Linked DNA regions of Homo sapiens. The protein of the gene in region 1 purifies or fractionates together with the protein of each later gene. This does not show direct contact. Each region holds a gene or a part of one and is shown on either strand. Other genes may lie near its edges.

Region 1 (3,500 bases):
GGCTATAAGCCATTTTTTGGTGCTCACTGGTTTCTGAACACTGAGGATAGAAATAGCCACTTTCATACTTTGGGAGGCCGAGGCGGGTGGATCAGTTGAGGTCAGGAGTTCAAGAGTAGCCTGGCCAACATGGTAAAACCCCATCTCTACTAAAAATACAAAAAAATTAGCTGGGCATGGTGGCAGGTGCCTGTAATCCCAGCTACTCAGGAGGCTGAGGCAGGAGAATCACTTGAATGGGGAGGCGGAGGTTGCAGTGAGCCAAGATTGCACAATTGCACTCCAGCATGGGCAACAGAGTGAGACCCAGTCTCAAAAAAAAAAAAAAGAGAGAAATAGCACTTTCTCTTTGCCCCAGTGTTACAGGCGCAGCAGAGCCACCTGTGTCTGTGGTGCTGACAGGTCCAGGACAGCATCTGCAGGGCAGCCTCTGATTTTCTTTGATTTTTTATTTAGATTTTTCTTTTTGAGACAGGGTCTCGTTCTCTTGCCCAGGCTGGAGTGCAGTGGCGTAATCTCATCTCACTGCAATCTCTGCCTCCAGGTTCTGGTGATTCTCGTGCCTCAGCCTCCCAAGTAGCTGGGATTACAGGCGCGTGCTACTACGCCCGGCTTTTTTTTTTTTTTTTTTTTTTTTTTGTACTTTTCGTAGAGACGGACGGGGTTTCACCATGTTGTCCAGGCTGGTCTCGAACTCCTGACTTCAAGTGATCCGCCTGCCTCAGCCTCCCAGAGTGCTGGGATTACAGGCGTGAGTCACCATGCCCGGCCTGATTTTCTTTGATTCTTCTTTGTTCCCTCCCCAAAACCCTCTCACCTGTTTTCACCTGTAGGTGACAGTTTCCTCAACATACACACACCCCTGCCTGTGTGGGGTTTTGTTGCCTCCCCCGTGCCAGGAGCCACAACTCCATAACTCTGCCTCCTGTGTATAACCCTGCCTCCTCCACCCTGTCTCCTCAGGAGCGGAACGCAGAGAACGCCATCGAGGCCCTGAAGGAGTATGAGCCAGAGATGGGGAAGGTCTACCGGGCTGACCGCAAGTCAGTGCAAAGGATCAAGGCTCGGGACATCGTCCCTGGGGACATCGTGGAGGTGGCTGGTGAGTGACAGGGACGGCTGGTCCAGGATGGGAGGCCTTGGGGCTGAGGCCTAGGAGATGCCGGGGGCTGGTCAGGCTCGGATCCAGGTGTCCAGGAGGATGACGGAGTCTGCTTCTCTTTCCGACTCCTCAGAAGGTCATCCCAGGCCACTCCGGCCACATCCCCCCCTCCCCAGCGGAGTCTCAGCAGGAACAGCCAGTCCTGTCCCTGAGGCTGCAGGCAGACCCCCTGCTCCCCATCCTCTCACCCTGCACTTGCACTCGCAGGCAACAGGTGGAACCCGGTCCCTGCCAATGGCCCCGTCTCCACCCCCTCCCGGGCCTGGCTTCCCCCTCCTTCCACCCACCCCAAGCTTGGTCAGCTTTCAGTCTTGACCTCTCTGTGCCCTTGAGGCCTCTCAAAGGGGAAGGAGCGAGGGCAGAAGGGAGGAGGGAGGCCGAAGGCTCGAGCCCCCGACCATGTAAGGGAAACTCAGGCCTGGCACAGAGCACGCGACCGGGGAGGAGGGAGCTCAAGGAGGGCCCCGCCCGCGGCAAGGGACACTTAATGCCTGGCCAGGGAGGGGTGGGGGCCGGGTGGCTAAGATTACTGGGATTCTGCCCCCTTCAGCGGTTTTTATGTTTGCCCTGAGCAGGCCTTCCCGAAGCTCCAGGCCCCTGCCAGGGGGAATGGCTCTTCAGAGGCCTCCTTCCCTGTAGCAGACATCCGAATCACCACCCCAGGGAGCTTGGGCAGAGGGAGTGAGGGCAGGCTGAAGACCCCAGCGCCCCATCACAGGGCAGCCTTGCCGCCGTGACAGCATGGAGTCAGCGCCATGAATGTCTATAAATATCACGCGGGCTTGGGTGACAGGGTGTCCCGCCCGACTCTATCCCGACCTCCCTCCTCCCTCCTCGGTCCATTTCCTCTGGCACAGGAGGGATCCTTAGAAACAGAGGGAAAGGAAAGCGATTGGACCCTGTCCCCAGTACCATCCGTGGGACCAGTGCGGAATTAGGCAGCGGCCCTGGGAGATTCTTAGCCTCCTCCTAAGGTCTCTGAGTCTGGCTGGGCATCCACCTCTCCAGCCCCCCGACAAGGTGGTTTCCATGGCCTGCCAGCCCACCTGTGCGTCTCCCTGGCCTCACCTCCACCCATTCACTCTCCAGCCTGTGCTGCCCGCCCCACTCTTCCACACCTGTTTCCTGCCCAACCCCCGCTTCTCTCCTGTCCCATCCCATCCTGTCTTGTCCATGTCCCCAGCTCACTCTCCCTGGCTCCCCGCCTCCCTGCCTCCCTGAGATGCTCAGACCGGGCTGTCAGGTTCCCGATATGTGGTCCTCTCCATGACCACCCTGTGCCCCCCGCTGCCTTGAGTCCTGCCCACTCATACCTTCCGCTCACTCCTCTCCTGCCTTGCCCTCCACTGTTCCTCTTGGTTGCCCTCGATTTTCTCAATTTCCATATTTTCCCGTTTCTCCTTGCCTTCCCTGGCTGTCCACTTCATTCTCTCACCCCGACACCCCTTCTCTCTAATGCACCCTGTTTTCCCTGAGTTCTTTCCTTGCCTTTCCTCCTTGCCTTTCTCACTCCTGTCTCCCAATCTCAATTATAGCTTCTTGTCCTACAGCTGGACTGTCCCTAATTTCCCCTCCAGTCATTCAGTGGGCATTTATTGAGCATGTACTATGTGCTGAGCAGTACACCTGCCCATCCCTTCTCAGGGCTCACAGCCAGTGGGAAGAGATGTGGGAGTTCAAGACCAGCCTGAGCAACAGAGCGAGACTCCATCTCGCCGTGGACACGGGGGCAGAAGGGATGGGTGTCACGATGAGGGGTTGCCAGCTTCAGGAGCTCAAGCCAAGGGCCTGATGCAAGCCCTGGGAGCCTCCCTGAGACCTGAAGGATGGATGAGGAGAACGAGTCAGACACAGATTGGGTTTTTCTTTGGAAGGAAGAAAATTCCATTCCCAAGTGACCTCCCTCTTCCCTACTCTCTCCACAGTGGGGGACAAAGTCCCTGCAGACATCCGAATCCTCGCCATCAAATCCACCACGCTGCGGGTTGACCAGTCCATCCTGACAGGTCTGCTGGCCTGGGTGGGAAGATGCATGGGGGTGGGACGTGGGGAGGAAGAGGCAACAAGGGGGAGGTGAGTGGAAAGACAGAGAACCCTCACTGTCTGAGCAACATAAAGAGACCCTGTCTCTACAAAAAAATTTTAAAAACTAGCTGAGCATGTTGTTGAGTGCCTGTAGTCCTGACTACTCAGGATGCTGAGGCAGGAGGATCGCCTGGGTACAGGAGGTCAAGGCAGCAGTGAGCTGTGATCACACCACTGCACTCCATCCTGGGCCACCCTGTCTCTGTCAAAATAAAAACAAAAGGCTGTGCGAGGTGGCTCATGCCTGTAATCC
Region 2 (3,500 bases), on another chromosome or scaffold:
TCCATGCTCATGGGTAGGAAGAATCAATATCGTGAAAATGGCCATACTGCCCAAGGTAATTTATAGATTCAATGCCATCCCCATCAAGCTACCAAAGACTTTCTTCACAGAATTGGAAAAAACTACTTTAAAGTTCATATGGAACCAAAAAAGAGCCCGCATTGCCAAGTCAATCCTAAACCAAAAGAACAAAACTGGAGGCATCAGGCTACCTGACTTCAAACTATACTACAAGGCTACAGTAACCAAAACAGCATGGTACTGGCACCAAAACAGAGATAGAGACCAATGGAACAGAACAGAGCCCTCAGAAACAATGCTGCATATCTACAACTATCTGATCTTTGACAAACCTGACAAAAACAAGAAATGGGGAAAGGATTCCCTATTTAATAAATGGTGCTGGGAAAACTGGCTAGCCATATGGAGAAAGCTGAAACTGGATCCCTTCCTTACACCTTATACAAAAATCAATTCAAGATGGATTAAAGACTTACACGTTAGACCTAAAACCATAAAAACCCTAGAAGAAAACCTAGGCAATACCATTCAGGACACAGGCATGGGGAAGGACTTCATGTCTAAAACACCAAAAGCAATGGCAACAAAAGCCAAAATTGACAAATGGGATCTAATTAAACTAAAGAGCTTCTGCACAGCAAAAGAAACCACCATCAGAGTAAACAGGCAACCTACAGAATGGGAGAAAATTTTTGCAACCTACTCATCTGACAAAGGGCTAATATCCAGAATCTACAATGAACTCAAACAAATTTACAAGAAAAAAACAAACAACCCCATCAAAAAGTGGGCTAAGGATATGAACAGACACTTCTCAAAAGAAGACATTTATGCAGCCAAAAAACACATGAAAAAATGCTCATCATCACTGGCCATCAGAGAAATGCAAATCAAAACCACAATGAGATACCATCTCACACCAGTTAGAATGGCAATCATTAAAAAGTCAGGAAACAACAGATGCTGGAGAGGATGTGGAGAAATAGGAACACTTTTACACTGTTGGTGGGACTGTAAACTAGTTCAACCATTGTGGAAGTTGGTGTGGCGATTCCTCAGGGATCTAGAGCTAGAAATACCATTTGACCCAGCCATCCCATTACTGGGTATATACCCAAAGGATTATAAATCATGCTGCTATAAAGACATATGTTTATTGTGGCACTAGTCACAATGGCAAAGACTTGGAACCAACCCAAATGTCCAACAATGATGGACTGGATAAAGAAAATGTGGCACATATACACCATGGAATACTATGCAACCATAAAAAATGAGTTCATGTCCTTTGTAGGGACATGGATGAAGCTGGAAACCATCATTCTCAGCAAACTATCGCAAGGACAAAAAACCAAACACCGCATGTTCTCACTCATAGGTGGGAATTGAACAATGAGAACACATGGACACAGGAAGGGGAACATCACACACCGGGGCCTGTTGTGGAGTGGGGGGAGGGGGGAGGGATAGCATTAGGAGATATACGTAATGCTAAATGACGAGTTAATGCGTGCAGCACACCAACATGGCACATGTATACATATGTAACAAGCCTGCACGTTATGCACACGTATCCTAAAACTTAAAATATAATAATAATTAAAAAAAAGAAAAAAAAACAATATATCAGATGGCTAACTGACCTTGCTTGCCAGCTAAGGGTTTCACTTCTACATACCAAACTTACTGAGTGTGATTCAAATCCAAGCCCTAGAATTATTTCCTAAGCATTATCCATGTCAAATACAATAAATATTATATTAGGCACAAAAGGCAAGATTTAGAGGGATATTTTATCTGAAATCATTGCTCCCTCTCAAAGTGACATGAAATAGTTATTCAGAAATGTTTACATATCACATATAGACAAAATTCTTCAAACTAGTGTTTGAAATGATGATTAAGCCAGTTTATAAATCAAAAACAAATCAACAAATTCAAGCTATTGTAAGTTCTTTTAAAATTTAGCTTTAAACTCTATGTAGGCTTATCCTTATGTATTTTCTCCATGGAATTTTCCTGCCGAAATAACTCAAAAGGTAATGAGCTTGGTTTCATTTCTGACATTTTACTATTTTAACCTTTCAAAATTTTATGAAAAAGAATCAAAGCTTCAGTGGATTTAACATATGCTCTCAAAAATATCTTAGCAAAAGTAATAGTACTAAATGTAATTACCAAATTCTGGTGTGGCTCAAAATTCAGTTTGAATTGCCATATGGAATCAGGATTCTGAACAGGGCCACTTTGAAATCAAACTTAGAAATGTTAAACACTATAAAAATAAAAGCCTCTGCTTATATGAATGACTAAGCAATATTAATGATACTATGAAAACCATATCCAATCAAAGTGATAATGGAATTTCTTTCAAAAAGCAATTCAGCTTTTGGACAAGTCTTTGAAGCTCTCTGGAACAATCGCATCTGCTCTCTTTATTAATACTCCAAATCTCACAAAGGTTTGAGGTATCTTGCAAAAAAATACATATAATGAAAGAACAAAATAGAAATAAAATAAAATGCAAAACCAAGGAAAATATGAATCAGAATATGAAGTCACAGCTAAAAATTTAAAAAGAGAATGCCCATACATAATCTACAAGATCCTACTAAGTTGCTGTAGTTAATTTAAGCAGTGAATTTGTTCTTGAGCTTTCTGGTAGTAAAGTGAAAAGGAAAATATAGTTTCATAGGACTCGTTGTTCAAAAGGAAGAATGAATTAGAAAAAGTTATCTAAAGCAAATACATTTATGACTTTTTTTTTTTTTTTTTTGAGACCATGTCTTGCTCTGTTGCCCAGGCTGGAGTGCAGTGGCAAGATCTTGGCTCACTGCAACCTCCGCCTCCCGGGTTCAAGCGCGTCTCCTGTCTCAACCTCCCAAGTAGCTGCGACTACAGGCGCATGCCACGACGCCTGGCTAATTTTTGTATTTTTAGTACAGACGGGGTATCACGATATTGGTCAGGCGGGTCTTGAACTCCTGACCTCAGGTGATCTGCCCGCCTCGACCTCCCAAAGTGTTGAGATTACAGGCATGAGCCACCACGCCTGGCCCATTTATGATTTTTAAAAAGTTATTTCTTGTCATGTTTCTCCATGCAAGTTGAGAGGATAAAGCAAAAGCAATATGCACAATGAATCAGCAAAGGGCTCATTATTAAATGTTTACTGAATGCCTAGAATGTTAAATAGGGATAATAATATTTAGTTACTTTCCTCCGAGTTCTAAGATGGTTTTCTGTGATTAAAATATAACATTTAATTTGCATATAAAGGAGAAAGAATCGAGTAGCCTTAGAGAACTACTAAATCTTTAAGATGTCAAATTCAATTACATTCTTTAGAAGTGTAATATTTCCTGAAGAGAAAAAGAGCTAAATATAGACTCTGGAGGAAAGATGCAATTTATGAATTAAACCCAAGAGATTCTCAGAAAATCGTGTAGCCATTTTAAAGTTAACAAACTTGACCTTTA
Region 3 (3,500 bases), on another chromosome or scaffold:
GTACTGTCGCCAAGAATTTGGTCCTCTGCTTCCAAAACTTATTTCCACAAGGAAAGTGAATATTCACTATAGTGTAGCAGGCTAACCCAAAACAGACCAGGATCCCCAGGGCTCCTGAAGGCAGAAGCTTAGGAATAGAGTGCTCCAATCAGATATTCTATCCAGCTGCACTCCTCCTCCTTTTTCCTGCCCAGAAATGAAAGACGACCACAGGAGCAAAGACAGAACAAGATGTTAAAAGCAGTTATCTGCTGAGCATAGAGGGATTTATGGAGACACTAACAAAGGCAACACAGAGATCTTTTATCAGCAATCCCTGACAGGCAGCTTAGCACACTGTATGAACTCAGACCCAGTGTCTTCCCTCAAAGGATTCTGTTCGTATATTGCTTGTTTCTGGTCTGAACTAGACAGAAAAATGCATTAAATTCTAGAAGGCCATCTCCTTTAGTGCTGACATGCCAAGTGATTTGGTATAGTGTTTTTAATTCTGAATACTTCATCTTCCAGTATTTAAATATAGTCTACAAATAATTTAGCTGATAACATTATTTAAAACAAAAAAGGCACTTTACCTTTCTAGATTCAAACACCCAATGGCTCTTTCCATCTTCATCAATGTGATTCCACCAACGTAGGCCAACCATTAGTCTACCTGTGACATTCTGGTGAAGATTAATATAAACAGGCACATTTTAAAAGCATTATTTAAAGATCTGTCACAAGCTCCTATCTTAGTGTAACATTTCACAAACAAAAACCTTCAGCTTTACCTCCATAATATCCAGTTAGCAAAGACTACTATGTATCAGGCCTGGCTAAACGATTAAGTAAAATGGTAATGGCAGGACTAATAGGGGTAGAGGTGACAGAGCAAGCAACAAGTCCACCCATAAACATTACACCTTCTCTTTTCCCTCATGAACAATTTGCCCTTTCTCCAGTTCCCTAATTTTCCCTAAACCCCTTGCTATTTGGTTACTGTGACCTACTTTACATCCTGACTATAGCTACATATATTTTACAACTACATATCCCTGAAAATGATTATAGACACTGGCCTTCAGTCAGTCTCTCAAGTGTACCAAGCTCTTTTCCTACTTACTAAGGTAACAAATTAGTTTGATAGCTTTCCTAATCTTTATTTACTCAACAAATATTTACTGAGCATCTACTATGTGCTGGTAATACAACAGTGACTAACAGATACCAACTCCTTCCTCAGGGAAAGAGGTGAAGAGAGGCAGACAACCAATGCACAAATGTACCATTACCAACTGAGTTAAGTCCTGCAAGGGAAAAGTGTGGGATGCTTGAAGAGTATAACAGGGAAATTTGATCTAGTCTGGGTATCAGAAAATGACTCTCTGAGGAGTCAACATTTGGAATGAAATATAAAAGATAAATAAGAATCAACAGTACCATGGATGTTTAATTAATGGTGTCCACTAATAGATTCAGTGGTTCTGTGAACCTCGATGGGTAAAAAAAAATGTTACCTTCATTTTCATTAACCTCTGGCTAAAATTTAGCATATCTTTAAATTATGAATGTAGACAACAAACTATGAATGTAGGTAAAATTAAAAACACCCTGACACAATAGAAATCACAGGCATTTTTTTATTTTGTACTATATTTGCTGCAGTTACCTCAAAATATTGTAGTTTTGTTTTTTGTTTGGTTTTGTTTTTTGTTTTTGAGACAGAGTTTCGCTCTTGTTGCCCAGGCTGGCATGCAACGGGGCGATCTCAGCTCACCACAACCTCTGCCTCCCGGGTTCAAACGATTCTCCTGCCTCAGCCTCCCAAGTAGCAGGGATTACAGGCATGCGCCATCATGCCCAGCTAATTTTGTATTTTTAGTAGAGATGGGGTTTCTCCATGTCGGTCAGGTTGGTCTCGAACTCCCAACCTCAGTGATTCACCCGCCTTGGCCTCCCAAAGTGCTGGGATTACAGGTGTAAGCCACCACGCACGGCCTCAAAATACTATTTATGCTCACCACTGCTTTGAAAGTAGTTAGCATATCATTAAATTATGAATGTAGACAACAAACTATGAACATAGGTAAAATTAAAAACACCCTGACACAATAGAAACCACAGACATTTTTCATTTTGTACTATACTTGCTGCAGTTATCTTAACATATTGTTTATGCTCACCACTGCTTTGAAAGTAGTTATTAGACCTGCCACTAGATCTTACCATTAATAAATTCATAAAGTATAGTAGTCCTCCCTTATCTGCAGGGGATACATTCCAAGACCCCCAGCAGATGCCTCAAATTGTGGTTAATACCAAACCTTATATATGCTATATTTTTTCCTATAAGTACATACCTATGATAATGCTTAATTTATAAATAATGCACAGTAAGAGAATAAGAAATAAAAATAGAACAATTATAACAACATAATCTAATAAAAGTTATGTGAATGTAGTTCTCTCTCCTCACACAGTATCTTACTGTTTAGCGTAGCATATAGCAGTACTGAAACCGCAGAAAGCGAAACCTCAGATAATGGGGGAACTACTACACATATAACTCAATCAGAAATTTACTTTTTTAATATTTTTAAATTATATTTCAATATAAGTGACTTCCTTTGAAATCTTATGTATTTTATATATGTGAAAACTTATTCATGAGTTTATGAAAGGGGCCCATGGCATAAAAAGATTAGGAATCCCTGTATGAAGGTGATGTGGGAGGAAGAAGAGCATTCCAGATAGAGCAGCAGGCACTGATGCCCTAATGAAGAAAGTACAATCTATGGATTTATGGGACTTGGTCATTAATTGGATATGGAGTAGGAAGGAGGCAACTGATACATTTACGGTTTGCTCAAGTAAAAAAATAGTGATTCCAGGCCCCACGAAAGGGAACACTCAAAGAAGAAGAGCTTTTGGGGAGTGGAAGATGACAAGTAGTATTTTACACATGTTAAGATATAAGATGCCTGGCCAGGCATGGTGGCTCACTTGGGTTCAAGACCAGCCTGGCTAACATAGTGAAACCCTGCCTCTACTAAAAATACAAAAATTCGCTAGGGATGGTGGTGCATGCCTGTAGTCTCAGCTATCTAGGAGGGTGAGGCAGGAGAATCACTTGAACCCCGGGAGGCAGAGGTTGCAGTGAGCCAAGATCACACCACTGCATTCCAGCTTGCGTGACAAAGCAAGATTTTGTCTCAAAAAAAAAAAAAAGATTTGAGATGCCTTCAAGACAGCCACATAAAAACGTCAAGAAGACACATGGAGAGGCCTTAAGTTGTGAGGACAAACCTGAATGGAGATACAGATCTGGGAGGCAACACAGCTTACAGATCAGCAATTCAAACCAGAAGCACAGACAGCACTCCTTAGGAAGGGAATACAGGAGAAGAAAAGGAAGAGTCTTATGAGACCAAAATTCCTATGGGAGAGATGCTAAGTAAAAAAAAAAAAGAGCTGGCAAGGGAGACCTAAACCAGAGGTCTCTTCTATAGGTATTTTCA
Region 4 (4,283 bases), on another chromosome or scaffold:
AAACTGTCTTTATTTGCAGATGACGTAATTGTCCATGTAGAAAATCCAAAGGAATTGACAAAAAAGCTCCTGGAACTAGTAAGTGATTAACGGACGATTGCAGGATACAAGATTAATACATAAAATCAATTACTTTCCTATATGCCAGCAATGAACAAGTGGAATTTGAAATAAAAAACACAATGCCATTTCCATTAATATTCAAAAAAGAAATATTTCTGTATAAATCTAACAAAACATATACAAGATCTATATGAGGAAACCCATGAAACTATGATGAAGGAAATCAAAGAACTGAACAAATAGAGAGATATCCCATGTCCATGAATAGGAAGATTCAATACTGTCAGGATGTCAGTTCTTCCCTCCTTTATTGATAGATTTGATGAAGTCTCGTCAAAATCCCAGCGAGTTATTTTGTGGCTATTAACAAACTGATTCTAACATTTATATAGACAGACAACTCAAAAGAGCCAAGACAAAATTGAAAGAGAAGAACAGAATTGAAGGACTGGCAGTACCCAACTTCAAGACTTACTACAGAGCTGCAGCAATCAAGACAGTAAGGTATTGGTGAAAAAATAGACAAATAGATCAATGATACAAAGTAGAGAGCCCAGAAATAAACCCACATGAATACAGTCAACCAATCTTTGACAAAGGAGTAAAGAGAAAACACTGAAGGAAAAAAAACATGGTCATTTCGGAAAATGGTGCTGAGACAACTGAACACCTATAAGCCAAAAAAAAAAAAAATCTAGACACAAACCTTACACATGTCAGAAAAATTAAAATGTACGTATAGAACTATAAAACTCCTAGGAGATAACGCAGGTGACTTGAACACACTGGTGGACTATGAAATGCTGGGCTACGTGAAGGGTTAGCACCTTCACATTCCAGGGCAGCCAGAGCCCGCAGTGCTGGACAAGCGACCATCTTCACCCCTTCCAAACTGCATGCAAATAGGCAGAGCTCGGGCGATGGGGAGTGGGCATGAGAGACCACCTTCTCACTGTTCTGCAGGAGAGATCATGTTCTATGAGTGGCCATTTACTGCCCTCTCCATCCTCCCCGTCCCCAGGCCCTGCCCTCTCCTGAGACCCTCAGGGAAGTGCCATGTTGCCTACAGTTTCCTTGGCCAACCTCTATCCAGCCAGAACGCTCTCCTCATTCTCCCACACTCAGGGGACTCTCCTGTCCCGTAGCCATCTGTCCCAAAAAGCTCTTCTTTTCTAACATGCCTGGGCTGCTTTGACCCCATCCTACTGGCAGGTGGAGAGGAACTTTGCAGATACCCTGGGTGCAGGTCCTAAGGTCCCTGGGGGTGGGGTAGGAGAGGCTGGCAGAACTGAAACCCAGGAAGGCAGGCCATCTGTCTCAGAAGGGGCCCCACGCTGGGGTTTCTCAAACTCTCAGCAGTGGAATTGCACTTCTGCAATGAAAAATTACACTTCTATTTTCTTTCCTAAAGGGAAAAAGGAAGAATGCAACAAAACTGAAGTATGTTCTGCCACGTTCCTGAACTGCAGCCATAGGAGCCCTCCCAGCCCTACCCAAACCAGCCTACTCCCTCTCAAGAGCTCACAGCTGCAGGACTAGAGCCAGATGTGCCCCGGCAATAAGGTAAGTTGAAGCCAGAGGGGCTTGAACCCATGGGGAGAAGGGAGGGCCTGGTGGGGCTGGGAGGAGGGCTCCCCTGAGACACACATTCTGGAGTGTCTTCCTCCTGCCCCGTCCCAAAGGCTGGATTTGTAGGGCTGGGTTTCTGTTTCCCCAGAACACCTGGGATCCAAAAGACACGGGACAGCCTGTCGTGGATGGGCTCCTCTTTAGTGGGAGATTTCTGTTAGCTCTGGTTGGAGCAGAGAGTAAGGCCACACAGCAACTGTGAATCTTTCTTCCTGAGGGATTCTTTCAGGGTCTCTGTGCCGTGATATTAGTTTCTGGGAGTGAACTCTTGAGTTTCCAGCCAGGCCTGACAGCATGGGTTGCCCAGCCCACCTGTCCTGGGCTCAGCCTGTAACGCATACCTCGAGAAAAGGCTTTCTGGCTGGGCGTGGTGGCTTACGCCTGTAATCCCAGCACTTTGGAAGGTCGGGGCGGGCGGATCACCTAAAGTCAGGAGTTCGAGACCAGCCTGGCCAACATGGCGAAACCCCGTCTCTACTGAAAATACAAAAATTAGCTGGGCATGGTGGCGGGCACCTGTAATCCCAGCTACTGGGGAGGCTGAGGCAGGAGAATCCCTTGAACCTGGAAGACGGAGGCTACCATGAGCCAAGATCATGCCGCTATACTCCAGCCTGGGTGACAGTGTGAGACTCCATCTCAGAAAAAAAAAAAAAAGAAAAAAAAGAAAGGCTTTCGGCAGACTATGGCCAGATGGGGTGTGGGTAGAGGCATATGTGTGTCTGTGCCTTAGGGGAAAGGGGGTGCCCTCAGGCCTCTGATAGTGAAAGGGTGCCCTCACTATCAGACTAAAAGGTCTCAGCCATTAACCTACTGCATCTAAAAGGCAGGAGGGGCAGCAGGTTCAAGACCTGGAGGGACATTGAGTTCAAGCCACCTGCAACAGGCTCGCTGTCCCACAGCCTTTGAGACATGATCCCATTTGTGGTCTCTCTGGGTGATTTCACCATGTGTGTGTGTGGGCTTCTCATTTAGCCACTCGGCAAATGTGCCCCTGGACATTTATGGTGGCCAGGCCCTATTTGTATGGGGCAGTGGAACATGGGGCAGCAAGAACCACAGCCCAGACCATACCCAGCCCTTGGGAGGCCTCAGGGGCAGGAAGAGAGGAACTCAGGGAAGACAGGACAAGGGCCCACAGAACTTGGGCATGAAATGCAAAGATGGAATGAATGGAGAGTAAGGTTGGCCAGGTGTCCTGGGGGATTCCCCCTGTTGTGGGAGTCAGAAGGCAGCGAAAGGTCACCTTCCCCAGGGAAGGGAGCTTCACAGGAGAGGTAACACTTGAACAGGGCCTTGAACCGTGGGCAGTATTTGGACACAGAGTTTGGGATGGAAGATGCATTCTTAGGAGAGAAATAATGTGAGCAAAAGCCTGGTACCCAGAGAATGTATAATTAGTTATTCAAATCCACTCAACCCTTGGTTCCTGTTGAAGATGATGGCAGGTCCTGGGCCACAGGGTGCTGGTGGACATAGCAGAGTTTGTGTTCCTCAAACCCATGCAGGAACAAAGCTGGCCATTGTGAGTGGCCTTCCAGCAAGTGCCCATAGTAACCACTCGGAATGTGCTAGCTGTTTACTCTTCACCAGGGTTTCTAGGCAGCCTTTCTGGTGGCCAGGACTAGGCTAAGCATCCTCCTTCTGTGTCCTTCCACACATCCTGATGCTAGAAACACCTCTCTCCTCCACCAGTGGGTGCTCCCAAGAGTCAGGGCTCGGTTCGTTGTTGAATCTGCTTCTCCCCAGCAGCTGGTTCCCTGCTTGGCTCAAAGGAGGATTCAGCAAGGGTTTGTTGTGTGACTGTCAGATACAAGGAAAATGTAGCCAGTCTGTCTACCCTTTCCTTTCCAAGAAGCAGGGCCAAGTTGTCTCCAAATAACCAAAAGATTACCAAATCCCCACCCTGCAAGCCAGCATGCCTTATCCCTTGCATAGACAAGGACAGATATATCTATACTACAGAAATCCAAAAGTCAGACAGAGTGGGTGGCATGTTCTATTCAGAGTATGAGAGAGACTAAGCTCATGACCTTCCACACCAATTCCAGCCTTGGCTCCATCCTGGCTTGGGCAGAGTGATTGTATGAACAGGCACAGGGCCCCTGAGGTGGGCAAGTGTGTCTGGGCTCAGGGAGCCACAGAGGTCTCTGACTGAAGCTGAGCCTGTGTGTCCATGTTCCAACTTCCCAGGACTTCTTCCATGGAGAAGCCCCTCACCGTCCTGCGAGTGAGCCTGTACCATCCCACGCTGGGCCCATCTGCCTTTGCCAATGTCCCACCACGGCTGCAGCATGATACCAGCCCTCTGCTTCTCGGACGGGGGCAGGACGCCCACCTCCAGCTGCAGCTCCCTCGCCTCTCCCGCCGTCACCTGTCCCTGGAGCCCTACCTGGAGAAAGGCAGTGCCCTGCTGGCCTTCTGCCTCAAGGCCCTGAGCCGCAAGGGCTGTGTGTGGGTCAATGGGCTGACGCTGAGGTACCTGGAGCAGGTCCCCCTGAGCACCGTCAACAGGGTCTCCTTCTCAGGCATCCAGATGCTGGTTCGCGTAGAAGAAGGCACATCCCTGGAGGCTTTTGTCTGCTATTTCC

Evidence for each region. The genes of interacting proteins can lie anywhere in the genome.
Region 2: the proteins of ATP2A1 (region 1) and FAR2 purify together in Homo sapiens (affinity purification with mass spectrometry; one large-scale study listed by BioGRID and IntAct). This does not show direct contact.
Region 3: the proteins of ATP2A1 (region 1) and TVP23C purify together in Homo sapiens (affinity purification with mass spectrometry, with the first as the bait; one large-scale study listed by BioGRID). This does not show direct contact.
Region 4: the proteins of ATP2A1 (region 1) and TIFAB purify together in Homo sapiens (tandem affinity purification; one large-scale study listed by IntAct). This does not show direct contact.

What each region holds. Positions count from the first base shown.
Region 1 is NC_000016.10:28,881,488-28,884,987, forward strand, and holds part of ATP2A1 (sarcoplasmic/endoplasmic reticulum calcium ATPase 1), read left to right. Parts: intron 1-963; coding exon 964-1,102; intron 1,103-3,087; coding exon 3,088-3,168; intron 3,169-3,500. UniProt on the Homo sapiens protein: Key regulator of striated muscle performance by acting as the major Ca(2+) ATPase responsible for the reuptake of cytosolic Ca(2+) into the sarcoplasmic reticulum.
Region 2 is NC_000012.12:29,327,278-29,330,777, forward strand, and holds part of FAR2 (fatty acyl-CoA reductase 2), read left to right. Parts: intron 1-3,500. UniProt on the Homo sapiens protein: Catalyzes the reduction of saturated but not unsaturated C16 or C18 fatty acyl-CoA to fatty alcohols (FAls). A lower activity can be observed with shorter fatty acyl-CoA substrates.
Region 3 is NC_000017.11:15,546,484-15,549,983, forward strand, and holds part of TVP23C (Golgi apparatus membrane protein TVP23 homolog C), read right to left. Parts: intron 666-3,500; coding exon 576-665; intron 1-575. Other genes in the region: TVP23C-CDRT4 (uncharacterized protein LOC100533496), read right to left, coding at 576-665.
Region 4 is NC_000005.10:135,449,552-135,453,834, reverse strand, and holds the start of TIFAB (TRAF-interacting protein with FHA domain-containing protein B), read left to right. Parts: upstream 1-1,483; 5' UTR 1,484-1,626; intron 1,627-3,112; exon of another isoform or gene 3,113-3,335; intron 3,336-3,885; 5' UTR 3,886-3,895; coding exon 3,896-4,283. UniProt on the Homo sapiens protein: Inhibits TIFA-mediated TRAF6 activation possibly by inducing a conformational change in TIFA.